7 linked regions of the Homo sapiens genome follow. The protein of the gene in region 7 interacts with the protein of the main gene of each other region in a pairwise test. Each region holds a gene or a part of one and is shown on either strand. Other genes may lie near its edges. The genes, in order: KLRC1, MYNN, EGFL8, MAGEA2, FUT2, TNMD and NEK7.

What was found.
Region 1: the proteins of NEK7 (region 7) and KLRC1 interact in binary tests that used the Homo sapiens proteins (3 or more experiments, as listed by UniProt).
Region 2: the proteins of NEK7 (region 7) and MYNN interact in binary tests that used the Homo sapiens proteins (3 or more experiments, as listed by UniProt).
Region 3: the proteins of NEK7 (region 7) and EGFL8 interact in binary tests that used the Homo sapiens proteins (3 or more experiments, as listed by UniProt).
Region 4: the proteins of NEK7 (region 7) and MAGEA2 interact in binary tests that used the Homo sapiens proteins (3 or more experiments, as listed by UniProt).
Region 5: the proteins of NEK7 (region 7) and FUT2 interact in binary tests that used the Homo sapiens proteins (3 or more experiments, as listed by UniProt).
Region 6: the proteins of NEK7 (region 7) and TNMD interact in binary tests that used the Homo sapiens proteins (3 or more experiments, as listed by UniProt).

Annotation. Positions count from the first base shown.
Region 1 is NC_000012.12:10,447,953-10,450,377, reverse strand, and holds part of KLRC1 (NKG2-A/NKG2-B type II integral membrane protein), read left to right. Parts: intron 1-410; coding exon 411-464; intron 465-989; coding exon 990-1,141; intron 1,142-2,425. UniProt on the Homo sapiens protein: Immune inhibitory receptor involved in self-nonself discrimination.
Region 2 is NC_000003.12:169,779,896-169,783,395, forward strand, and holds part of MYNN (myoneurin), read left to right. Parts: intron 1-694; coding exon 695-854; intron 855-2,569; coding exon 2,570-2,748; intron 2,749-3,500.
Region 3 is NC_000006.12:32,163,445-32,167,394, forward strand, and holds the start of EGFL8 (epidermal growth factor-like protein 8 precursor), read left to right. Parts: upstream 1-1,150; 5' UTR 1,151-1,213; exon of another isoform or gene 1,214-1,237; intron 1,238-2,693; 5' UTR 2,694-2,721; coding exon 2,722-2,822; exon of another isoform or gene 2,823-3,053; coding exon 3,054-3,176; intron 3,177-3,256; coding exon 3,257-3,366; intron 3,367-3,465; coding exon 3,466-3,561; intron 3,562-3,642; coding exon 3,643-3,813; intron 3,814-3,905; coding exon 3,906-3,950.
Region 4 is NC_000023.11:152,751,043-152,755,131, reverse strand, and holds the start of MAGEA2 (melanoma-associated antigen 2), read left to right. Parts: upstream 1-1,289; 5' UTR 1,290-1,344; exon of another isoform or gene 1,345-1,590; intron 1,591-1,740; 5' UTR 1,741-1,819; intron 1,820-2,618; 5' UTR 2,619-2,738; intron 2,739-3,309; exon of another isoform or gene 3,310-3,407; intron 3,408-3,557; 5' UTR 3,558-3,623; intron 3,624-3,703; 5' UTR 3,704-3,768; coding exon 3,769-4,089. UniProt on the Homo sapiens protein: Reduces p53/TP53 transactivation function through recruitment of HDAC3 to p53/TP53 transcription sites. Also represses p73/TP73 activity. Proposed to enhance ubiquitin ligase activity of RING-type zinc finger-containing E3 ubiquitin-protein ligases.
Region 5 is NC_000019.10:48,694,690-48,698,770, forward strand, and holds the start of FUT2 (galactoside alpha-(1,2)-fucosyltransferase 2), read left to right. Parts: upstream 1-1,281; 5' UTR 1,282-1,400; intron 1,401-4,081.
Region 6 is NC_000023.11:100,583,450-100,587,735, forward strand, and holds the start of TNMD (tenomodulin), read left to right. Parts: upstream 1-1,486; 5' UTR 1,487-1,569; coding exon 1,570-1,617; intron 1,618-1,781; coding exon 1,782-1,913; intron 1,914-4,286. UniProt on the Homo sapiens protein: May be an angiogenesis inhibitor.
Region 7 is NC_000001.11:198,292,998-198,296,497, forward strand, and holds part of NEK7 (serine/threonine-protein kinase Nek7), read left to right. Parts: coding exon 1-42; intron 43-3,500. UniProt on the Homo sapiens protein: Protein kinase which plays an important role in mitotic cell cycle progression. Required for microtubule nucleation activity of the centrosome, robust mitotic spindle formation and cytokinesis.

The sequences.
Region 1 (2,425 bases), on a different chromosome or scaffold from region 7:
TATTTGGACTAAATGTGGAATGATTATTCTGAATTTGTCAAAGAATAAATGAAAGAATAATTGTTGAAAGTATTCGCTTCTGATGCAATCGTATGTATATATTTGGATTTCATAACTCAAAAATATGTTCTAGGAGTCTGAAAAACCTTACTGAGAAATAGAAATTAATTTTTGAAAGTAGTTAAATCAAGAATTATAAGAACTATATGAGATGGTGAAATTTGGTTCTTTAGATCTATGAAATACTTTTCCAAAAAACCACCATTACTTTATCAAATTTTTCTTAAAATCAATTTTATTCCATATTATTCTAACTCTAAATAATACAAAAAAATTCAAACAAAAACTTAAAATTATTATGATTGATTTAGATGCTAATTTTTTTACAAAGATTACTTTAATTTTTCTAGCTACATTAATACAGAGGCACAACAATTCTTCCCTGAATACAAGAACTCAGAAAGGTATATAATAATTTTTAAAGTTTTAATATTGTACAGTTTATTTTTTCTTGATCTTAGGCTGTACAAAAATAAAATTTTGGGTGAAAAATTATAAAATTTGGCAATAAGTGTTCATAAATAAAATTAGAGTAAGGCATTCACTTGTCATCAACTATAAGTAAAATCACTATGCTTTCTTTTTATCTGTTGTGTTCAAATTCTTACTGCTATAATATGATAAGATACAAGTTATTTATTGTTCCTTAAAAATCAGATTAGTTCATTGATTTTTCAAGACATGTATAGAGTGGATTTTTGTTTGCTGGTTTGCTTTATATGGGAACACAATTAGGAGATGAAAGGCTGACCCTTTATTGCGCATGTGTGTATAAGTGACTGGGTATTTTGACACTATATATTTACCAGCCCATGAAGATGTATAGATATGTTGCATACGTATAGGTTTATATGTTTGCAAATATGTGAACTAATTTTCATTTTTAAAAATTCATATTGGTCTAGATAGTAATTCATATCTTTATTTAGCACGTCATTGTGGCCATTGTCCTGAGGAGTGGATTACATATTCCAACAGTTGTTACTACATTGGTAAGGAAAGAAGAACTTGGGAAGAGAGTTTGCTGGCCTGTACTTCGAAGAACTCCAGTCTGCTTTCTATAGATAATGAAGAAGAAATGGTAAGATGTAAATGTTTTAAACACTTTATGAAAAGCTTCTTTCGGTCGATAATATATTTGTAGAAATCATCCATATGTGTGGGTATATACATTTAGCTTATATGTTTTCAAGTTTATGTAGTATTTAATTGATTGACTTAATAATGTTTTAAAATTCATATACTGCTAATGTACTTTTGATTATTTTCAGTTTTTGCTTTTCATGGAAAACCATGCTTCTAGAAATGCTTTCAATCCACAATACATTTTGCTATCTAATTTTATCGGGCATGATGTGATCTGGTCATGCAGATTGATCACAAAGTGAATGAACTCCTGTGATACAAGTCAGATCATGAAATAAAAGTTTCCAGCTCTAGTAGTTCCACCCCTGTGTATGCCCTCATCACTTATCCTGACTCCTCTCCAAAACACTGTCTTGACTTTTAATGTTATAAATAACGTTTACCTGCTTTTGAATTTATATAAAGGGAATCATACACTGTGAATTTCATGTCTGTGTTTTTCACTCCTATCTGATATTTATGCAATTCCTCCATATTATTGCGGTTATCTGTCGTTTATTACTGTTCACTGCTGTAGTATGTACAAAGAACACTAAGAATCCATTCAATCCTGTGTCTCTGGATGGGGAAGTGAGTCTCATGCCCTCAGGGACAAAGAGGACCCTGGGTGGTGCACTGGTAGTCATTGGGTTCCTTTGCTGATCCTCCTCACCCACATCCACTCTGGTGTCTCTTGGTATGAGAAGGAAGTACTTCCTCTGGCTGTATTGGTAGCAAGTCTCCTGGTAGATCATCCTTGCCAGTGGTACCAGCCTTGCCTGTTGTTGCGGAGGGGACTCCCCTTCAATACAGAACAGGAGTGAGCTTTGCTGGGCCTCCTCCTATTGCCAGGTTGGGTGTAGGGAAACAGCAGGCCTAGGTCACCTTCTTCTGTCGTGTGGAGGACTTAACATGCTCGCTCGGACACTTGGTTGATCCCTGATGCTAGGGTCCCAGACAATTTCATCTTTCTCTTTCCACCTTTCAGAGTTCTCCATTGCTTTTGTCTTTCATTAATCCCAGAGTTTATAGTTGTTTTTAGTAGGGAGTAGCAGAGAGAGACGAGTCTACACCACCTGGTCAGGATCACTGTTATTCCACCAAAACCAAATCAGATAAAAAAGTGAGGGCTTATCTAGTTAAAGAATGGTGTGGTACCCAGAAAACCCAATATGTAGCTTCCATGTCATTTATTTCTGAATCACAACCTCTAATTTCTCTTCTAAATCTCCAACTCTGA
Region 2 (3,500 bases), on a different chromosome or scaffold from region 7:
CAACACTTCTCATTACATACTTCTAGACTCTGTTGACTTCTGAACATGTTCATTGGAATTACACATACAGTGTTCCCTAAGCTTCTACAGTTACCTTTATTTTGCATGTCCTCTGCCTGGTTGTAAAGTATGAGCACCTATTGGTACGTTTACATTCGTACTTTTTTCTTTTTTTTTTCTGAGACAGAGTCTCACTGTGTCGCCCAGGCTGGAGTACAGTGGTGCGATCTCGGCTCACTGCAAGCTCCGCCTCCCGGGTTCAAGCCATTCTGCTGCCTCAGCCTCCCGAGTAGCTGGGATTACAGGTGCCTGCCACCAAGTCCGGCTAATTTTTTTGTATTTTTAGTAGAGACTGGGTTTCACCATGTTAGCCAGGATGGTCTCGATCTCCTGAACTCGTGATCCGCCCGCCTCCGCCTTCCAAAGTGCTGGGATTATAGGCGTGAGCCACCGAGCCCAGCCCTAGATTCGTACTTTTTAAAATGCTGTATGTATTTATCTCGTGAATTCAGAAACACTAATTTCTTTTGATTCTACTGGTGTTTTCAGTGGTCTGGAAAAGATTATATTTGTTTTCAGTTCCAACAGTTAACATTTTCTTAATAACAAAGCTAGTACTGTTGATGAAATCTTATATGACTTATGCAACCAAAACACTATTTTCTTCTAAATATAAATTTTATTGTTCCTTTAGGTGAGAAGCCATACAAATGTGAATTGTGTGATAAAGGATTTGCTCAGAAATGTCAGCTAGTCTTCCATAGTCGCATGCATCATGGTGAAGAAAAACCCTATAAATGTGATGTATGCAACTTACAGTTTGCAACTTCTAGCAATCTCAAGATTCATGCAAGGTAAAAAACCAAATGAGTTGTTTGATCTTTTAGTCTTTTAATCACCATAGTCTTATGAATAGACTATTATATTAGAATTCAGGACAGTAGAATTGTAATTGTGGTTCCACCAAACAATGTTAACACGTTCAAGGAACCACAAGGAAGCCACAGTGGTTGATAGGAAATAAGCAGGGGGTGGGGACTACTAGGAAATAAGGTCAGACTCGTCCAGAAGTAAGATCAGAATGGTCCAGAATGCAGCTTAAGAGGATCATTCTGACTGGTATAGGATTATAAGAGTGGAATCAGGGTAAACAGGAATCTATAGATAAAACCCAAGCAAGGGTGATGGTGGTTCAGGCCAGGGTGGCAGCAGTGAAAGAAATAAGTAGTAGTAGATTCTGGATATATTTTAAAGTTAGAAATAATAGAATTTGCAAACAGATTGTATGTGAAGTCTGGAAGAGAGTCAAAGATGATTCTGAGGTTTTGGGCCTGAACCCCTATAAAGATGGAGCTGCCATTAACTGAGATAGAGAAGGTTTGTGGGTAGAACAGTTTAAGTGGAAGTGCAGGAATTTACGAGTACAGTTCTGTGTGTGTTAAATTTGAGATGACTTAACACTTCTGAATAGAGGTGTGCAATAGATAATTGGTTATCTAAGTCTGCAGTTCAGGGGACTGGTTTGAGCTGAAGATAACAGTTTGGCAATCATTAGCGTTTGGCAGTCATCAGCATATGACAGTATTTAAAGCTGTAACCCTGGCTAAGGTCACCAAGAGAGTGAATGTGGACAGAAGAAATCAAAAGACGGCCCTGAGGCACTCTAACTTTATGAGTTCTGAGAGATGGGTGAGAACCAGCAGAGGTAACTAGGAAGGAGCAGCCAGTAGAGGAGGAAAACCAGGAAAGAGGGCTGCCCTGGAATCCCAAGTGAAGGAAGTTATTCCAGATGGGAGTGGTCAATTGTAAAATTCTGTGATAGGGAGATGAAGACTGAGAACTGACGTGGATTTAGTAAAGTGGGAAGTCAGCAGTGCTCTTGACAAAAGTATCATTAGTAGAGGCCAGTAGAGAAGAAATGGAAGTAGATAGAACACTTGGAGTCTCAAGGTTTTGGTAAAGGGGAGCAGAGAATGGAGGAGCAAGTAAGGTCAAGGGTCTTTGTTTTGTTTTTGGTTTTTTTTTAATATGGGAGACATCAGTATATTTGTATACCATAATCCAATGGAGTGAGAAACATGGATGATGTAGGACTGGGGAAACTGCAGAAGTGATATCATTAAGTAGGATCTCAAGTATACAAATTGGAATTGATGGATTCAGATGAACTGTCACCCTCATGTCATATGAATTTTTCTCAGTGAAATAGGAAGCAGGGATGTCACCTGAGAGTTACAATGGGCAAGGAGATGCTGATGGTTTGAGGAGAGAGTTCACAAGTCAAAGAGTGACTAGACTCATGAAAATAATTGCCTGCAGTATTAGGGGCCCACTGACAACCATATAAAGATCATGGAAAAACTTTTTGAACTGATCTCAGAACTAATGTTTTGATAATAAGAAATATTTGTTTTTGGCAGTGTTTACACTGAAACAACTACTGATTTTAAATACATAGTCTTGGCCTGTTAAGATGACATGAAATAAAATCTATAAAAAACTTTATGAATTCTTGCTATATAGACTGACCTCCAAATTGTTTTACTTATTTAACTTTATTTACTAACAGGAAGCATAGTGGAGAGAAGCCATATGTCTGTGATAGGTGTGGACAGAGATTTGCTCAAGCCAGCACACTGACCTATCATGTCCGTAGGCATACTGGAGAAAAGCCTTATGTATGTGATACCTGTGGGAAGGCATTTGCTGTCTCTAGTTCTCTTATCACTCATTCTCGAAAACATACAGGTAAGTTTGACAGGGAGAGACTGCTTAAAATAAAGTTATAAATAAAAGAAAAAGGGGACTTGGGCCTTTTAGCGAAGTAGATCGGAAACTTTGTAGTTAGATATCTGTTTATATTTCTATAAGCTATGTTTATGATTTTTGCACATATTTGTTAAATATAAAAGCTGACTTATTTTCTAGAATAATACAAGGTGGGTGAAATAAATTATATAACTTACACATTAAAATCAGTGAGATAATTTTGATATTATATAAACTTGCATTGAGATGCATTTTGTGACTTTATAAAAACCTTTTCAGCTTCCTAAAGGGTCATCTCCTATAGTTAGGGTTGGGGAGTGGGTTTGGGTTGAACATGGATTTTTAAACTTCTTAGGACCTTTCCTACACAGATATTCTGGGATTTTCAAATAAGGTAATTCAGATGCAAAATAGCAGTTTGGAAACAAATTGCTTTTTTAGGGTACATTTTTTAAAAGACTTCCCTACATACTTTTATTCTCCTTTATTAATATAGTAGATAGCAAGAATAGAAATGTGGGTTTATGAATTGACATGTTCTTAATCATATAAAAATCAAATTCCTTGCCCAAATCATCTCTATTAGAAGGGACATTTTGAGGAATAAAGTTTTAATATATGAAAACTTATGAACAGTATACAATAATTACTAATATTCATTTACTTGGATCACTGAAAATACCTCTAAAGTACAATATAGAGAGATTTTAATTTAAATAATATTCCAGAAA
Region 3 (3,950 bases), on a different chromosome or scaffold from region 7:
GGGGTTCTGAGGCTCCCCTATGGGGACAGTTCCGTTCTTGAAGTGTCAGTGTTGGGGAATATCTGTGGCCTATGAGGCCCATCTCAGGTTTGGGGATCCCCCAGTCCCTATGATCAGTGTTGGAGTACCCCCCTGGGAGAGCCTAGTTTCTTTGAGGCCCCAGGCCCTCTTTTAACTACCTTTGAATAGGTGTTATCCCTGTATTTATGGAAATAAAGTTCCATTTCCTCAGTGTGACTTGGCTCATTTCCAGGTGGAGGGGACCTGGCTCCCCAAGGAGGGTGGGGGTGGAGCCTGAGGCCTGGGTGCCCAGATGCCTGGTCTAGGGTGGGGACCCCCTTGGTGTTTCCGCTCTCTCTCAATGCCCATTCTTTGTGGGTTCCTGGTTCTCTGCGGGTTCTTTCCTGCTGAAGACAATTCTCTTCCTCTCCCAGTCCCCAAGACTGGGGGGTTAAGCTCAGGGCTCCAGTGGTTTGGGCCTCAGCCTCATGGGTGGAATGCGCCTGCCACCCCCAGGCTAGACGAGGGGGCAGAGGGTCAGGGTGGGCATTCGTTGTGCCGCTTTTGAGCTTTGTGGGCCAGAGCTGGGTGTAGGGCTGGACAATGAGCCTCCTCTTCCTTGAAAGAAGGAATTTTGGCTGAGACAATAGGGCCCTGTCTGTTCTGGCATGGGGGGTGGTGGCTGACTCAATTCTGTTCCCCCTAAGCCCTAACAAATGTCATGAAGAGAGGGGGGCAGTTTTCCCCTTGGTGCCCTGGGCTGCCCCCCTGCCCCTTTGTGACGACTTGCCCTTCTAGCTTTCCTCAGCTGATCTTGCTTTTTCTCCCATAACCTGAACTGCTTTGTTCCCTGCAGCTGGTTCTCTCCCTGCCCCCTAACTCTCCCCTAGTCTGTTTTGGGTTCAAGGGGGTACTGGTGGTGTTACAGAGCTCATAGCTTCTGATCTGGGGAGTCCAGAAATAGGGGCCTCAGAGGGTTGGAAAGATACTTCTAGGGAGCCCTTTGCTGGGGTGGGGATGAGGGTAGTGGGACTTGACCCTACTGAGCTGACCCTGCTGGAGCTAAGGAGGAGGCTTGTGGGAGGGGGCAGGAATGGGAGGACTCTCTGGCCCAGCCCCTCCTCTCCTTCTTAGCCTGCCAGGCCCACCCACCAGTCTGAGCTGCTTCTGCTGAGGCTGGTCTGCTTGAAGCCTCCCAGGAGAAAGAAGCCAGGTGGGAATGGAGAGAGAGAGGAAGGCAAGTGGGGAGAGAATTTCAAATGGGGAAAGAGTGGGGTTTACTCAGAGCCTTAGGGTGGGCATGAGTTGCGGGGTGTTTTGTTGGAGCAAGGGATGTGCATTTAGGGCGTTATGTGACGGTGTGGGTATATGAGGGGAGTAGCAGTGTGTGAAAGGTGTGGAGTTTCCAGGTGCTTGGTTTGTGTGTACGGTGTGAAGGTATATAGCTAGGGGTTTTTTTTGTTTGTTTGTTTTGTTTGTTTTTTTGAGACGGAGTCTTGCTCTGTCGCCCAGGCTAGAGTGCAGTGGCATGATCTTGGTTCACTGCAACCTCTGCCTCCAGGGTTCAAGGGATTCTCCTGCCTCAGCTTCCCGAGTAGCTGGGATTACAGGCGTCCACCACTGCGCCTGGCTAATTTTTTGTATTTTTTAGTAGAGATGGGGTTTCACCATCTTGGCCAGGCTGGTCTCGAACTCCTGACCTCATGATCCACCCACCTCAGCCTCCCAAAGTGCTGGGATTACAGGTGTGAGCCACCGCGCCCAACCAGCTAGGGTTTTGAAGGTATGAAGTTATAAGAGGGCATGTTAAAGACAGGAGGGTTGGCCAGGCATGGTGGCTCACACCTGTAATCCCAGCACTTTGGGAGGCCAAGGCAGGCGGATCACCTGAAGTCGGGAGTTCGAGACCAGCCTGACCAACATGGAGAAACCCCGTCTCTACTAAAAATACAAAACAAAATTAGCCGGGCGTGGTGGCAGGCGCCTGTAGTCCCAGCTACTCGGGAGGCTGAGGCAGGAGAATGGCATGAACCCGGGAGGCGGAGCTTGCAGCAAGCCGAGATCGCACCACTGCACTCCAGCCAGGGTGACAGCGAGACTCCGTCTCAAAAAACAACAACAAAAAAAAAACCAAAAAAAAAAAACCCTAGCTATATACCCTCACACCCTACAAAACAAAACAAAACAAAATTAGCCAGGCGTGGTGGCGCATGCCTGTAATCCCAGCTATTTGGGAGGCTGAGGCAGGAGAATCACTTGAACCTGGGGGGCGGAGGTCGTGCGGTGAGGCAAGAACATGCCATTGCATTCCAGCCTGGGTAGTAAGAGCGAAACTCCTTCTCAAAAACAAAAACAAAAAAAAACCCAAAAAAAGACAGGAGGGTCATAAGGGGAGGGTTGACTGTGTGTCCCTCCAGGTTGTGCAGAGGGGATTAGAAGTAAGTAGGTTAGAGGGGAGGTGGAGGGAGTGTGCTGGGGTGTGAGCTTTTATGATGCTGAAAGGATCATGATATGCTAAGGACAGGATAGTGTTGGGTTGTACACACAGGTGTAGGCAATCCTGGTGGCTAGTATGTAAAAGTGAATGTCCTGACTCCCTTAGAGGGTACCTGCAGAGTGCCCTTGGAGGGACTAGTGCTGGAGAAATTAATAGGAGAGGGGACGGGCATCCATTAACCTTTTCTTGCCTGCAGCCTGTAGGGTCCAGCGTCAAAGCGAATCATGGGGTCCAGGGCTGAGCTGTGCACTCTCTTAGGCGGATTCTCCTTCCTCCTGCTACTGATACCAGGCGAGGGGGCCAAGGGTGGATCCCTCAGAGAGAGGTGACAACAGAGGGGGTAGGGCCCGGGGTGAGCTCTTCTCAGGAGCCTTCTGCTGGGGGTGGGGCTTCACAGGAGGCAAAACATAACTGTAAGTTTAGAATGGGGGTGAGAGGCTGTCATCTGGAGGGAGAGCGGGGGGCCTCAGTAGCCTCTTGAGGGAAGTGGGACTCCTGGCTCCCCAGGGCCTGGCCTACTCAATCTCTCCCACCTCATCCTCTGGCATGGACGCAGTCAGGGAGTCTGCTCCAAGCAGACACTGGTGGTCCCGCTCCACTACAACGAGTCCTACAGCCAACCAGTGTACAAGCCCTACCTGACCTTGTGCGCTGGGAGGCGCATCTGCAGCACTTACAGGTGAGGGATGGGGAGATGGGACCCCAAGAACCCCAACTAGGACCCGTACTCAGGGTCCTGAGCCGGGCGCTGTGTTCCAGGACCATGTACCGCGTTATGTGGCGGGAGGTGAGGCGGGAGGTTCAGCAGACCCATGCAGTGTGCTGCCAGGGCTGGAAGAAGCGGCACCCGGGGGCGCTCACCTGTGAAGGTGAGGCTGGGTCTTCCGGGCCTTGCGGGAGGCGCGCCCCACGGAGCTGGGGAGCTGGGTCGTCGGTTTGAGTCTGAACCCCACTTCCTCTGTCCTCAGCCATCTGCGCCAAGCCTTGCCTGAACGGAGGCGTCTGCGTTAGGCCTGACCAGTGCGAGTGCGCCCCCGGCTGGGGAGGGAAGCACTGTCATGTGGGTGAGTCAGCTTGTCCTCCCCACCTACCCAGGTGCTTGCCCCCGCCCCCTCTCTCAGCCCCTTCCTTTTTTCGGTAACTAGACGTGGATGAATGTAGGACCAGCATCACCCTCTGCTCGCACCATTGTTTTAATACGGCAGGCAGCTTCACCTGCGGCTGCCCCCATGACCTAGTGCTAGGCGTGGACGGGCGCACCTGCATGGAGGGGTCCCCAGAGCCCCCAACCAGTGCCAGCATACTCAGCGTGGCCGGTGAGTGGGCAGGAGTACGGGCCACCCGAGGGACTCGGGACGGGCGTCCGGGCTCGGGTAGTGGTCACACTCTTGGTCTCCTTTGTCCCTAGTTCGGGAGGCGGAAAAAGATGAGCGCGCTCTGAAGCAGGAGATTC
Region 4 (4,089 bases), on a different chromosome or scaffold from region 7:
AGAAAGTAAAACACCAGTATCAGCAAGAAAATCTACACAACAAAACAGGGAAAGCCCAGAGTGAGACTGGAGACTGTGTTGAGCTGGTACTTGTGTGTGACACTTGCAGTGTCTGTTGGAGGGGGTTAGCGGCAGAGATGTTGGGGAGGTTTGTAGCCTGCCTAGACGGCAGATGAAAGAATGGGTAGAATAAAAGTTTTGAATTTTCCACTTCACTTCATTGCACAATCTGAGGCAGCCCCTGAAAACACGATGCCAAGAGCCCTAGGTAATAGCAGTGTCCACCAGGAAAATTGGGTTTGTTAAGGCAGCATGGCTCCAGAGTTCTGCTAATAACAACCTGAAACCAACAGAGTGGGAGAGGAATTATGTTTTTTAAAAAAATTCTTTCAACAGAACACAAAGACTGGAATGGAAGTAGACTAGGATATCAGAGTGAATCATGCATACTAAGGGTAGGTGTTAGTTCATAGAAATAAATATATATATTGCTACCTACATATATACTTAGAAGATATGTAAACCGTATTTCTTCAATTCAGAGAATAAATCATTTAGGACCAAAGGTTTGCCAAGTGTAGCTCTGGCTGGGGAGGAGCCCCCGTGGGAAGGTGTGCGTCTTCTCCCAGAGGTCACTATCATCGCGGGAGCTCCTGCCCTGCAGGGAGCACCTGGCCTGGCACCCGCAGCCATTCTCTACAAGGGGTGCAGATGCGCAGATGCGCAGATGCTCAGAGGTGACAGAAACAGAGCATCTCCCACCCATTCCTTCATCAAACAGCCAGGAGTGAGGAAGAGGACCCTCCTGAGTGAGGACTGAGGATCCACCCTCACCCACATAGTGGGACCACAGAATCCAGCTCAGCCCCTCTTGTCAGCCCTGGTACACACTGGCAATGATCTCACCCCGAGCACACCCCTCCCCCCAATGCCACTTCGGGCCGACTCAGAGTCAGAGACTTGGTCTGAGGGGAGCAAACACAATCGGCAGAGGATGGCGGTCCAGGCTCAGTCTGGCATCCAAGTCAGGACCTTGAGGGATGACCAAAGGCCCCTCCCACCCCCAACTCCCCCGACCCCACCAGGATCTACAGCCTCAGGATCCCCGTCCCAATCCCTACCCCTACACCAACACCATCTTCATGCTTACCCCCACCCCCCCATCCAGATCCCCATCCGGGCAGAATCCGGTTCCACCCTTGCCGTGAACCCAGGGAAGTCACGGGCCCGGATGTGACGCCACTGACTTGCGCATTGGAGGTCAGAGGACAGCGAGATTCTCGCCCTGAGCAACGGCCTGACGTCGGCGGAGGGAAGCAGGCGCAGGCTCCGTGAGGAGGCAAGGTAAGACGCCGAGGGAGGACTGAGGCGGGCCTCACCCCAGACAGAGGGCCCCCAATAATCCAGCGCTGCCTCTGCTGCCGGGCCTGGACCACCCTGCAGGGGAAGACTTCTCAGGCTGAGTCGCCACCACCTCACCCCGCCACCCCCCGCCGCTTTAACCGCAGGGAACTCTGGCGTAAGAGCTTTGTGTGACCAGGGCAGGGCTGGTTAGAAGTGCTCAGGGCCCAGACTCAGCCAGGAATCAAGGTCAGGACCCCAAGAGGGGACTGAGGGCAACCCACCCCCTACCCTCACTACCAATCCCATCCCCCAACACCAACCCCACCCCCATCCCTCAAACACCAACCCCACCCCCAAACCCCATTCCCATCTCCTCCCCCACCACCATCCTGGCAGAATCCGGGCTTTGCCCCTGCAATCAACCCACGGAAGCTCCGGGAATGGCGGCCAAGCACGCGGATCCTGACGTTCACATGTACGGCTAAGGGAGGGAAGGGGTTGGGTCTCGTGAGTATGGCCTTTGGGATGCAGAGGAAGGGCCCAGGCCCTCCTGGAAGACAGTGGAGTCCTTAGGGGACCCAGCATGCCAGGACAGGGGGCCCACTGTACCCCTGTCTCAAACTGAGCCACCTTTTCATTCAGCCGCGGGAATCCTAGGGATGCAGACCCACTTCAGCAGGGGGTTGGGGCCCAGCCCTGCGAGGAGTCAAGGGGAGGAAGAAGAGGGAGGACTGAGGGGACCTTGGAGTCCAGATCAGTGGCAACCTTGGGCTGGGGGATCCTGGGCACAGTGGCCGAATGTGCCCCGTGCTCATTGCACCTTCAGGGTGACAGAGAGTTGAGGGCTGTGGTCTGAGGGCTGGGACTTCAGGTCAGCAGAGGGAGGAATCCCAGGATCTGCCGGACCCAAGGTGTGCCCCCTTCATGAGGACTGGGGATACCCCCGGCCCAGAAAGAAGGGATGCCACAGAGTCTGGCCGTCCCTTGTTCTTAGCTCTGGGGGAACCTGATCAGGGATGGCCCTAAGTGACAATCTCATTTGTACCACAGGCAGGAGGTTGGGGAACCCTCAGGGAGATAAGGTGTTGGTGTAAAGAGGAGCTGTCTGCTCATTTCAGGGGGTTGGGGGTTGAGAAAGGGCAGTCCCTGGCAGGAGTAAAGATGAGTAACCCACAGGAGGCCATCATAACGTTCACCCTAGAACCAAAGGGGTCAGCCCTGGACAACGCACGTGGGGGTAACAGGATGTGGCCCCTCCTCACTTCTGTTTCCAGATCTCAGGGAGTTGATGACCTTGTTTTCAGAAGGTGACTCAGGTCAACACAGGGGCCCCCATCTGGTCGACAGATGCAGTGGTTCTAGGATCTGCCAAGCATCCAGGTGGAGAGCCTGAGGTAGGATTGAGGGTACTCCTGGGCCAGAATGCAGACAGGGGGCCCCATAGAAATCTGCCCTGCCCCTGCGGTTACTTCAGAGACCCTGGGCAGGGCTGTCAGCTGAAGTCCCTCCATTATCCTGGGATCTTTGATGTCAGGGAAGGGGAGGCCTTGGTCTGAAGGGGCTGGAGTCAGGTCAGTAGAGGGAGGGTCTCAGGCCCTGCCAGGAGTGGACGTGAGGACCAAGCGGACTCGTCACCCAGGACACCTGGACTCCAATGAATTTGGACATCTCTCGTTGTCCTTCGCGGGAGGACCTGGTCACGTATGGCCAGATGTGGGTCCCCTCATCTCCTTCTGTACCATATCAGGGATGTGAGTTCTTGACATGAGAGATTCTCAAGCCAGCAAAAGGGTGGGATTAGGCCCTACAAGGAGAAAGGTGAGGGCCCTGAGTGAGCACAGAGGGGACCCTCCACCCAAGTAGAGTGGGGACCTCACGGAGTCTGGCCAACCCTGCTGAGACTTCTGGGAATCCGTGGCTGTGCTTGCAGTCTGCACACTGAAGGCCCGTGCATTCCTCTCCCAGGAATCAGGAGCTCCAGGAACCAGGCAGTGAGGCCTTGGTCTGAGTCAGTGTCCTCAGGTCACAGAGCAGAGGGGACGCAGACAGTGCCAACACTGAAGGTTTGCCTGGAATGCACACCAAGGGCCCCACCCGCCCAGAACAAATGGGACTCCAGAGGGCCTGGCCTCACCCTCCCTATTCTCAGTCCTGCAGCCTGAGCATGTGCTGGCCGGCTGTACCCTGAGGTGCCCTCCCACTTCCTCCTTCAGGTTCTGAGGGGGACAGGCTGACAAGTAGGACCCGAGGCACTGGAGGAGCATTGAAGGAGAAGATCTGTAAGTAAGCCTTTGTCAGAGCCTCCAAGGTTCAGTTCAGTTCTCACCTAAGGCCTCACACACGCTCCTTCTCTCCCCAGGCCTGTGGGTCTTCATTGCCCAGCTCCTGCCCGCACTCCTGCCTGCTGCCCTGACCAGAGTCATCATGCCTCTTGAGCAGAGGAGTCAGCACTGCAAGCCTGAAGAAGGCCTTGAGGCCCGAGGAGAGGCCCTGGGCCTGGTGGGTGCGCAGGCTCCTGCTACTGAGGAGCAGCAGACCGCTTCTTCCTCTTCTACTCTAGTGGAAGTTACCCTGGGGGAGGTGCCTGCTGCCGACTCACCGAGTCCTCCCCACAGTCCTCAGGGAGCCTCCAGCTTCTCGACTACCATCAACTACACTCTTTGGAGACAATCCGATGAGGGCTCCAGCAACCAAGAAGAGGAGGGGCCAAGAATGTTTCCCGACCTGGAGTCCGAGTTCCAAGCA
Region 5 (4,081 bases), on a different chromosome or scaffold from region 7:
GCTGCCTCATGGTGTCGTTTCACTGGGAACTTTGTCCTCCTGTTTTCTGCAAACTGGTGGTTAGAGTGGGAAGCTTGATCTGATTTTTTTGTTTGTTTGTTTGAAGGGAGCTCCGTAGCTGGTAGGTAGCCTCCTGCTGCTTAGCTGAAGCTGGGGAGTGGCTGCTGGTTTCTCTTTCCTCCTGTTAGGACTGCTGGGAGCTCTGGTGGTGCCTGCCTCTTCTCTCAGTAAAATTCCTCATCCATCTTTTTTTTTTTTGAGACAGAGTTTTGCTCTTGTTTCCCAGGCTGGAGTGCAATGGTGTAATCTCAGTTTACTGCAACCTCCGCCTCCCAAGTTCAAGCGATTCTCCTGCCTCAGCCTCCCAAGTAGCTGGGATTACAGGTGCATGCCACCACGCCCCACTGATTTTTGCATTTTTAGTAGAGACAGGGTTTCACCATGTTGGCCAGACTGGTCTCAAACTCCTGACCTCAGGTGATCCACCTGCCTCGGCCTCCCAAAGTGCTGGGATTACAGGCATGAGCCACTGTGCTGGGCCATGGCTAATTTCTGTATTCTTATAAGGACGGGGTTTCACCTTGTTGGCCAGGCTGGTCTCTGACTCCTGACCTCAGTTGATCCGCCTGCCTCGGCCTCCCAAAGTGCTAGAATTACAGGTGTGAGTCACCACACCGGGCCCATTTGTATTTAAAAATTTTTTTGAAATAGGCAGGGCGAGGTGGCTCACGTCTGTAATCCCAGCACTTTGGGAAGCTGAGGCAGGAGAATCCCTTGAACTTGTGAGGCGGCGGTTGCAGTGAGCTGAGATCACGCCATTGCACTCCAGCCTGGGCAACAAGAGCAAAACTCTCTCAAAAAGTAATACTACTAATAATTAATTAATAAATAAATATAAGACTCTGAGGGGACTCAGAGTCAGCGAGAGCCTGGCCTAGCAGGACTCTGTCCCCCGCCTCCATGCTGCCTTCCTGGAGGCCTTCCTGGCTGCCTGGAGGAGCGGAGCAGAGTGGGGGCCCCTTTCTGTTGGGGCATCACAACAGTTCCCCAAGGAAGACCCTCGGGGACCCGGATGGGGGATGCGACCTTGTCCTGCCTCTCTCCCCCACCCTTATGGCCAGGCTTGGGGTGCCTGGTGCAGGTGGAGGAGCTAAGGGTAGATAACAAGATGGACTTTGTGGCCGGCAATGGGGAGGGAGGAGGGGCTACGGGCTCACCTCCCTCCCGCAGCCCAGCCACACCTGCTCTGGAAAGCCCTGTAGCTCCTGGGCGGGGTTTGCCAGTCACCGATGCTGGAAGGGTTTCTTTGGCCCTGAGTGAAGAGAGACCCAGAGGGAACACTGAGGTGCCTGCCCAACCACTCTGTCCCGGTTTCCTTCAGCAGGACCAGGTGAGAGAAGGTGAGGGGGCTCCTCTCCCACCCTACAACACGCACACCTCTGCACACACGCCCAGGCGGAGAGCAGGGATTTGGGACGTGGACCTGTGTGCCCTCGTGGGTCCCTGGTGCCCTCTGGGAGGCACCCCCAACTCAGGACCTCCAGGAGAGGAGGGTCCCTCCCTCGGCAGCCAGGACCCCCCTCCCCAGCCAGCCGCCCTCCTTAGCTCCCTCCCCACTTCCTTCCAGGTGGATCTGTTTCTAGAGCTCCAACCACCAGCTCCCTCCCCTTCTCCACCCCGGGCCACCAGGTCCTTCCTTGTCTCCTTCCCCTCAGCAGTTTCTATGAACCACCCTGGCAGTAATGGTGCAGATGGCTCGCGCACAGCTGGTGGTGACCCGACTTTCCTGCCTCCACCCTGGGGCTCCTCAGAGGCTTCATGGAACCCAAACTGCTGGTCTCACCTCCGAGCCCTGCCGTCGCCCAGGGAGGGCGGCTCCGTCCCTCCTGCACTCCCTAATCCCGCTCTGAATCACCGCTTCTGTTCTGGGTCGGAGAATAAAGGTGGGGTTTCCAAGTGATGGCCCTACGTTATTGTCTGAAGCTCCCTTCTCCTCCCCAGGGTGGAAGTGATAATGCCGGGAATCCGGGAATCCCGGGGAGGTGCAGGAAGACAGCGAGCTCGAGGCAGTGGGGTGCGACTGAGCCGGATGTGCTGAGCTGCCCGGGGCACGGGGCGGTTGGGGTAGAGAAAGGCTTTCAGAGCTGGGGGACAGGACGGGGCCCCGGGTGAGCGGAGAGCTGGGTTATTTCACGGGAACAGCTGGTGACAAAGCCGGAGGGGTGTGCGGGGCCGGCGAGAGACTGGGATTGTGTCTTAAGAGGCATAGGGAGCCCTGAAGGGGCTGCGAGCTGGGAAGGGGCAGGGCCGGCGCTGGGTGTAGGGGACAGAGGGGAGAGGAGGAAGCCGGGCCGCAATAGAAAGACGTGGACGGGGCTGGACGTGGTGGCTGACGCCTGTAATCCCAGCACTTTGGGAGGCCGAGACAGGCGGATCACTTGAGGTCAGGAGTTCGAGACCAGTCTGGCCAACATGGAGAAACCCCGTCTCTACTAAAAATACAAAATTAGCCAGGCGTGGTGGTGCATGCCTGTAATCCCAGCTACTCGGGAGGCTGAGGCAGGAGAATCGTTTGAACCCGGGAGGCGGAGGTTGTGGTGAGCCGAGATTGTGCCATTGCACTCCAGCCTGGGGAACAAGAGCAAAACTCCGTCTCAAAAAAAAAAAAAAAAAAAAAAATCTCAGTAAGATAGACCAGGTGTGGTGTCTCATGCCTGTAATCCCAGCACTTTGGGAGGCTGAGGAAGGAGAACAGAGGACCTCCTGAGGCCAGGAGTTTGAGATCAGTGTGGGCCACATAGCAAGACCCCCTCCCCACCATCCCTACAAAAAAAGCAATTCAAAAAAAATAATGCCTTCAGGCAGAATGGGAGTGGTGCTTGGTTCAAGCCTGACATAAGTGTGAGTTTGGGGCACAAATTCTGCTCTGAATACCAGGGACAGCCCATGTAATACAGCATTTCCCTTTGTGCCCACGCAGCCCTAAGGGAGGTGTGGTTTGTTGTTGTTGTTGTATCTTTTTGAGATGGATTTTTGCTCTTGTTGCCCAGGCTGGCATGCAATGGTACAATCTCGGCTCACTGCAACCTCCGCCTCCCAGGTTCAAGCGATTCTCCTTCCTCAGCCTCCCAAGTAGCTGAGATTACAGTCATGAGCCACCATGCCTGGCTAATTTTTTGTATTTAGTAGAAATGGGGTTTCACCATATTAGTCAGGCTGGTCTCGAACTCCTGACCTCAGGTGATCCACCCGCCTCAGCCTACCAAAGTGCTGGGATTACAGGCATGAGCCACTGCACTGGCTCTTTTTTTTTTTTTTTTTTTTTTTTGAGACGGAGTCTCACTGTGTTGTGCAGGCTGGAGTGCAATGGTGTGATCTCAGCTCACTGAAACCTCTGGGGAGGTGTTGTTTTTATCCCTCCCCACAACCCCCTGTTGATGGACAGACAAGGACAATGAAACACAGAGAGGTAAAAGCCCTGGGTTAAAGTCACACAGCACATAAAAGGTTCCTGATCATGCCGTGCAGGGCATCTCGCCAAACCTCAAAAATTCACAATCTCATAGCGCAGCTTGCTCTGTGAGGCCTCCCCACCTCTTCCTTCTCTCCTTCCAGGCTCCAGTCAAGGTCAGTGCCCAGCTTCCTGCTCTGGGCCACTCAGCAGCCACCTTCCTCCTTCCTGGGTAAGGAGGTAGGGAGCTACCAAGGAGGCAGGGACATCCGTGTAGAACATTCTGCTTTTCTTTTTTCTTTTTTTTTAAGATAGAGCCTGACTCTGTCGCCCAGGCTGGAGTGCAGCTGTAGTGTAATGGCACAATCGCAGCTCACCACAACCTCCATCTCCCAGGTTCAAGTGGTTCTCCTGCCTCAGCCTCCTGAGTAGCTGTGATTACAGGCATGTGCCACCACGCCTGGCTAATTTTTGTATTTTTAGTAGCGACGGGGTTTCTCCATGTTGGTCAGGCTGCTTTCAAACTCCTGACCTCAGGTGATCCGCCCCCGCTTGGCCTCCCAAAGTGCTGGAATTACAGGCGTGAGCCACTGCGCCTGGCCTAATTTTCTCTAAAATAGAGACAAGTTC
Region 6 (4,286 bases), on a different chromosome or scaffold from region 7:
AGCAGTGAGCACAATAGGAAAGAACAGCTTTCAAAGATATAAAAATTTAGAATAGATAGGATCTAGTGATTGATTGGAATAGATAGGATCTAGTGATTGATTGGATAAAGGGAATGTGAAAAAGAGACAAAACCTCAGATTTTTGGTTTGAAAGACAAACCTCACATTTTTGGTTTGAAAGACAAACCTCAGATTTTGGTTTGAAAGACTGGGTGCGTGACAATTCCACTATTATAAGCTAAGTTATGTTCCCTCAAAATTCATATGTTGATGCCCTAGCCCCCAGTATTTCTATATTTGACTGTATTTGGTGATAGGGTTTTTAAAGAGGTAATTAAGGTTAAGTGAAGTCATATGAATGGGACCTTATCCAATATAACTGATGTTCTTATAATGAAAGGAGATTAGGATACAGGCATACATAGAGGGAGAATGTCATGTGAATATGGAGATGGTCATCTACAAGCCAAGGAGAGAGGACTCAGAAGAAGCCAACCCTGATAACACCTTGATCTTGGACTTCTAGCCTCCAGAGCAGTAAGAATATAAATTTCTGCCATTTAAGCTACTCAGTCTGTGGTATTTTGTTATGGCAGCCCTAGCAAACTAATATAGCCACCAACTAAGGTTGGGAATATGAGGGGAAAAAGTAGGTTAGGAGAAGGTGTTGAAAGAAGACTTTGATATAGAACATGTTGAGTTTGAGATTCCTGAGGTATATCCAGGTGGAGATGTTCAAATGGCCTTGAAATTAAAAGATATAACTGGGTTACAGGTACAGATGTGGAAATCACTGATATGTAGGTGATATTTTCAACTGTAGGAATGAATGATATCATCTACGAAGTCTGTGTAAAGTGAGAATGATCATCAAGAAGAGAACCATAAGGCATGTGAACATTAAAAAGCAGACTGAGGAAGAGGACCCAAGAAAGGAGAAAAATCAGAGACAGAAGATGAAGAGAGAGAGCTTAGAATTAGTCTTTATTTTATCCTGTTTTCATTATAATTAGTTAAGTACATATTGATAGCACCATTTAAAGAGCTTTAACTTAGTGAAGGAGGCAATATCTTATTCATTTCTGAATCTCAAACACCAAGCACAGTGCCTGACATTTAATATCCCTGCAATAAATATTTGTTGAACCAAATGGAATCGAAATTAGGACTTCATTCCCTTCTTTGTTTTGTTTGCTTATTTCTGGAGTGTGCAGCATGTATTGCCACTGATATTTTAAGTTCATAGTGAAAAATCATTTCAATGTGTTCTAGGCTTGGTCCCCTTCCAACCCAACCCCCAGGACAATAGTTTTCATTATAACCTTCTGTCTTTGCCATTCTGGATGGAATTCTGTGCACAGAAGTTATATACATATATGGGTATATCTATGTAACAAATCGCAGCACAGGAGTCCCCTGGGCTCCCTCAGGCTCTGGTATGACATATTTGAGCCATATAAATTCAGCTTCTCCTCTGGCATCTGTTAGCCGACTCACTTGCAACTCCACCTCAGCAGTGGTCTCTCAGTCCTCTCAAAGCAAGGAAAGAGTACTGTGTGCTGAGAGACCATGGCAAAGAATCCTCCAGAGAATTGTGAAGACTGTCACATTCTAAATGTAAGTTGATTCATATTTTTTCCCTTTTGAGCAGAAGCATGGTTTCACAGATTTATCATATTGCAAAGTGAACATTAGAAAGTGGAATCAAAGGTGACTTTGAATTATGGCTTGCTTATTGAGATTTATTGTGTATTGTTTTATTCTCTCTGTTCTTTGGTTAGGCAGAAGCTTTTAAATCCAAGAAAATATGTAAATCACTTAAGATTTGTGGACTGGTGTTTGGTATCCTGGCCCTAACTCTAATTGTCCTGTTTTGGGGGAGCAAGCACTTCTGGCCGGAGGTACCCAAAAAAGTAAGTAAATACACATCATAATCTGATGCTTCTGTTCTGAGTTTGATTGAATTTAATTAGTAGGCATATAAATTATTCTGAAAATGAAAATCATTAAGTCTCTTTTGTGTTTATTTTCTGGTGGTATGAAAAACTGAATCAAGATTTTTCTCTCCTTCATTTGCCTAATTATTTTGGTAAGGGAAAAAAATTTATCTTCTATATTTTGGTTAGTAATGATAGGGTGTAGAATTACCCATTCTTCTATAATGCTTATATTTAAGGAGTTAAGACTCCTCCTAGGAGCAAAGTTTTTACCTTAAGAAAAAATACTTTTAATCTTTCTTTCAATTATCTGGGCAGAAACTGATGGAAAAGTAATTAGACCACCACATAAGGAGAAACCACCCAAAGTGGCAGCAAAGGATTTTCAGGGATTATGTTTCTGACTTAATGCATCTGCAGTGAGAACAGGCAGCAAGCTGCTTTTCAGGAGGAGCAATTCTCATACCTGACTTCACATTTATTTATGACTTTAAAAAGAAACTAGAGCTTTTCAGCTCCTTGCCAGCTGCAATCATCACTGTCCCACTGAGATAGCAATGCCACAAGGTAGAAGCATGCGACACCAAGTCATTAATCACAGATAACTCAGAAAGCTTCTGATACTGGGGTCATTTGGTGAAGCTTGGCTAGCCACTGTAGTTTATATTTCTGTACCTTAGTGTTATTGTTATTCCTGGGCTCATAGGCAATGGGCAAGTTTAGATATAAAATAAATAAATAAAACCATAGTCCCAAATAAAACCATAGTCCCTTCATGCTCACAATTTCCATTTGAAAGATAATCAACAAATATACAAACTACAAGTTGTGAAGATAGTTTTCTGGCTTTGCCATGTTTTTCTGTTGGTGTGTGGATTGCTGCTGAAGTTATTGTTATTACTGTTGTTAATTGGTTGTCATAAGATGCTCATTTCTATTTGGTAACAGATGTAGGGAGAAAAAAGCACAAATCCAGGAAGGAGGATGATACAAGAAAATGGGTTGGCATGGACCGTTAGGAGCCAAAGGAGCAATAGGAGCAGAGAGAAAAAAATATGGGTCAGTGGGGAGAGAGAGGCAGAGCAGGAAAAGCAGAAAATAAGCTGGCTAAGTGTCTGAAAGATAACAGAGGTATAAAGCATAACCACCCTTGGGTTCTCCACCTCTGCTGTCATACCCACTTTCATTTAGTCCCAAAGGATATCTTATCAGGTTTAAGTAGGAGGGAGAGCAAGCCAGCCTACTTTGTTTGCCTTTTTATTTATACTTTGTTCCAGAAAAGATTTCAGGCATCACCCAATGCCTATAGTTAGCCCTATCCCCTACTCCTCCTCCCCTTACTGCTCCTTGCTTCTGAACTACTTACCGTTCAAATGTCCTTCTAGAGAAGCCACCTGTGTTCAGGCTGGCAGGGTGGGTAAAGCAATCGAGATCAGGAAGGAAACAGCAAATTAATAAGAGAGCCAAAATGCATTCCAATACAATTCTGGTACCACTTAGCTAATTCCCAAGGTGATATGTCACCCCACAAGTTGAACCTTGGATCCTCTTGAAAATTATCCATGAGTTAAAGGGCCATAAATCCTTTGTTCTCCACAGCCATAATGTACTTAACTGGGCATGGTGGATAGCTAGTCCTTTTGACCACCCTTAGATGCTTGCCTAAATAAGGGGCCAAATGGCCTTTCTTGTTTTATTGTTGTCATTGGTACTGCAAATGCTATTCCAAAAGAGTATATGTGTTTTTATAAATTTACAGTGCTATTTGCCTCAACGCAGCTATAAACGACTAGGTGGAGACCTTGCCTTTTTATTGCAAAGTGTCAAACTCACTTGCAGCTTCATGGTCTCCTCTCTTTCCCTATTATATCATCTTTACATCTCATTCTAGTTCTGTTTTTAATGATTATAAGGAGCAATCCTATGATACCTCAAACCAAAATAAAACTTGGTCAGTGCATGCACAGAAGAGGTGGGATATGCTGCTGAATAAAGTTTATCAAAAATCAAACCTCTTGTGAAGTAATCCATTTTGGGATGTCATTTTCAGCAAAGGGACTCTCAGAAATGAACAAAGCTATTATGAAGTAATCCAGATAAAGACAACAGGTGTCCCCTAGGGCAAGTTTCTCTACCATGAACAAATATTGTTGGTTTTCCATTCCAGTGGGGAGTTATGATTCATTGTCTTTGATATTTAAGTCATGGCCTTCATAAGACCAGGTTTGGTTCATTGAAAACTAAGAAATCAGCTGGAAATGAGGATGCTTTACTTAGTCCACTACTACCTTCAGGTCCCAGACAAAGATCTCAAGAGACCATCTATGTTTCCAATGGGTACGCCTATCA
Region 7 (3,500 bases):
TTCAAATCTGACATCTGGTCTCTTGGCTGTCTACTATATGAGGTAGGTAATGTTGATAAATTCCAAATATTGATGCAGTTTTACTTAGTATATTTCCTCTATCCTTATAGTATATACTTACTTTTTTCTGGATGTTTAAGAATCACCTTTTTAATTGTGAAGAATTTTCGTTGGGTTAATAACTTTGTATAATGGAATTTAATAACTATACATTCCTACACATCTAATATATTTTTAAATTGTGTTCTTTTGATGAGAAGTTTATTTTTAAAGCATTAACTTTTATGTTAATATAACGCCTTTCTCTATATCTTGCATTTGTAAAAATATACGTTTGAACATCTGTAAATCTTGATCCATGCATTACAGGAGTGGCATAATGGATTGGATTTAATATATGAAAGTATAGTAAATATTTTTATCAATATTTTATTTCACTTTTACACAGGTGTAATTTAGCATTAAGGATAGTATGCAAACAGATAGTTCTTCTAGGTTATCAATTTAGTTTCCATGAGTAACAATTTGTATTGGTAAAGCTCAGTGAAATACTCTCTCTTTTGTTCTACTGGTGATCATTTATCAAAGGAAGATGGAATCATGTAGGTAGGTCCTCTAGAAATGTTGCACTGTAATAATTTGGGTGGATAAAAGAAAGCATGTTAGTAACACATTTTACATCTGTGTTGGTATAAAAGTATCTCAAGCTAGTGACTTCTGTAATTTTGTTTTTTTAATTGAATGATAATTTTCCTAGGAATATAGGCTTCGAGTCAAAGCTGTTAATTAAAAATTAGTCTATATCTAAGTAGGTTTTAATAAAGTGAGGAAATGTAATACATGGAAGCATTTTCATATCCCTGTGTAGGAATCATTTTCATATCTCTGTGTATATGAGAGAAGTCTAAAGAGGATAAATAGAAACCAATGCATTTCCTACTATATATATTTCCTGTCTCTTGTCCTCCAGAATTAAATGAAATATATGATGAAATCATCTATTTTAATTGTACCACCATTACTTGGAAGTAGAGCATTAGGAGGTGTTTTTTGACTCTTTAAAAATGTATGTCATGATCTTTTATTATTTTATTCATTGCAGATTCAAATTTCCTTAATTTAAGGAACCTGAAATTATTTGTTTTGTCCTTCCTACTAAAGTGACTAACAACTACTTAAAATGAAAGGATTTTTAAATATTCTTAAATAAACTCATACTTTGGATAATTTTTGTTATGAAAAATTATGAGTCAGTAATGTAACAAAACATGTTTTTATATGTGCACGAGATTACAAGAAATTACGCTCACTGTGTTATATTTTGTTAATAATTTGGTACAATCCTAAAAAGAACTGGATTGTTTATATTGTTACTATAATGTTTAAAAGTTAGTCACTCTGTACATTTAAAATATTTTATATTTGTTTAGTTAACCTTAGATTCCTTTAGGCCATAGTCTAATATTATCAAAGCAACATATTCTCTTCAAATCCCTAAAAGTAAACAGCAAATTGGTTTCCAATAACTAGATTAAATTTAGCAATAAAAAAGAAAAAGTTCTGTTGAGGTAGTAAGTGGTTTTTGAGAGGAAGTTTGCATAATTCTTTTAGATTTAGCATACTCATGTCAAAACTGAAATAATTTATCACATTTTGAATTTGCCTTTGAGAGACGGTGTCCCATTTTTGTATGGACTTAAAATGCCACAAAAATAAAAATAACATCTTTGGACATTTCTACATCCATGAGTTATATGTATTGTGGATGATTTTGAGTTAAAGTATTATCATGCTAATGTTAGTTTTCATCTCAACGCATTTTCTTGATTTCTCCATGCAAATCTTTTAGAAGAACTAGAATTTTTCTAAAGCTTTAATTTAAATTTATGTTCTATTTCCTTTCAGTTGTGTTTCAATGTACTGTTAATAGAAATAGCTAACAGTTTGGCTTTTAAAAATTGGTCATAACATCACGTATTTTGTATTGTACCCACTAAAAAATTACTATTAACAATGAAGACGTAGGAAGCCTTTTTTGAAAATGTATTTTAAACTCAGAAAATTAGACTTTCAAATATTCCTGAAACCTCAAAAAAAAAAAAAAACTAGCAGTACAGTTTTAATTGATATGCAACAAAGTAGACTTTACTAATTAAAATCAAGATGCTGTGCTTTTGCTACACGGACCTTTACATGGAAAAGTAGGTTTTACACATTTCCTTTATTGTTCAGCGCAGCAATTGCATCCTTACAGGGTTGTAGGTTGGTGGCTTACAGTTCAAAAAAAAAGAGAGCTGCCACCAGCCCCGAAGACAGACAGTGGGCTTTCGTCCCTCCGACACCCCCAGAATACTAATCAGGAAAGTCAGACCCTGGAGGTCAGGGAGTAAGTCAATCATTCTAGCGATCGTCTCAGTGTGGAGGATCAAATTAGCCTGAAAAATTCAGCTGCTGGGAGGAGAGGGCGAGCAGCTGTCAGGGGCAGCATCGAGATGCACTAATGAACCAGATGAATAGTGCAAAAGCTTGAAAATAAAAACAGGACAGTTGACATTTTTCATCTGTCAAAGCAGGAGATGCATGAAAATATACTATTCCTGTTTAACTCCTTAGGGGACATTCAGATTTTTTTTTTTTTTAACACTCTGCAGTACTGAGAAAAAGGACTATAATGAACGCCTAGAATATGATAATGAATATATGTACATTTACTTAAGGTTTTGCAAACACGGAGAGACTATAGTTTATATATACAGTGTATTTTTAAGGTAAGATCTTAAAGTGTCCTTGCATTTAAAACAAAAACCACTATTATTATTATTATTATTATTATTATTATTATTGTGGTTCTTTTAGAAATTTCCTCTCAGAGTGTTTTATATGATTAGGGGCATTCAGATTGTTTTTAACTTTTTTCTCGTCATGTGAAACAACTCTTCCTAAGGTACTTCTATATAGTTGTGTGCACGTTTTATGTAAAACATAGGCAAGATAAAAATGTGTTGAGCTACTTTCCAGTTTTGATTTCCAATCCCATCCCCTTCTCATCAAGGCTCTGAAGGAGTTAAAGCTCTGTCTGGAGCACAGAAGACAGATGAGAGCCATTTTCAGCTTGTCCTGTCCCCACTGACGCTCACTGAGTAGCACAGCATGGACTAGCGTGTTTCACACACACTCTGCCTGTCTGGGGAATGTACACATTGTCCTTCCAAAATCAAACTTATTAGCACATGTAGAAAAGGGTGACTGACTTTGGGGCAGCCTGGCACTCCGTGTTGTATTCTTGCTGCTGTGGTTCAAAGATTTAGAAGGTTTTGAACAGGATGCGAACATTTTAAATTGAATTTTTAGTTTGTAACACTGCTTACCACAGTACTTGCTTGCACTTTAAATGTCAAGTTAGAACCTTGTCTTAAAATAAATTTAAATTCGATAATGTCTTTTTTAAAGTTGTTCATCCTTTGGGTCGTGTTTTTCTGCATAAAAATCTCATTTGGAAG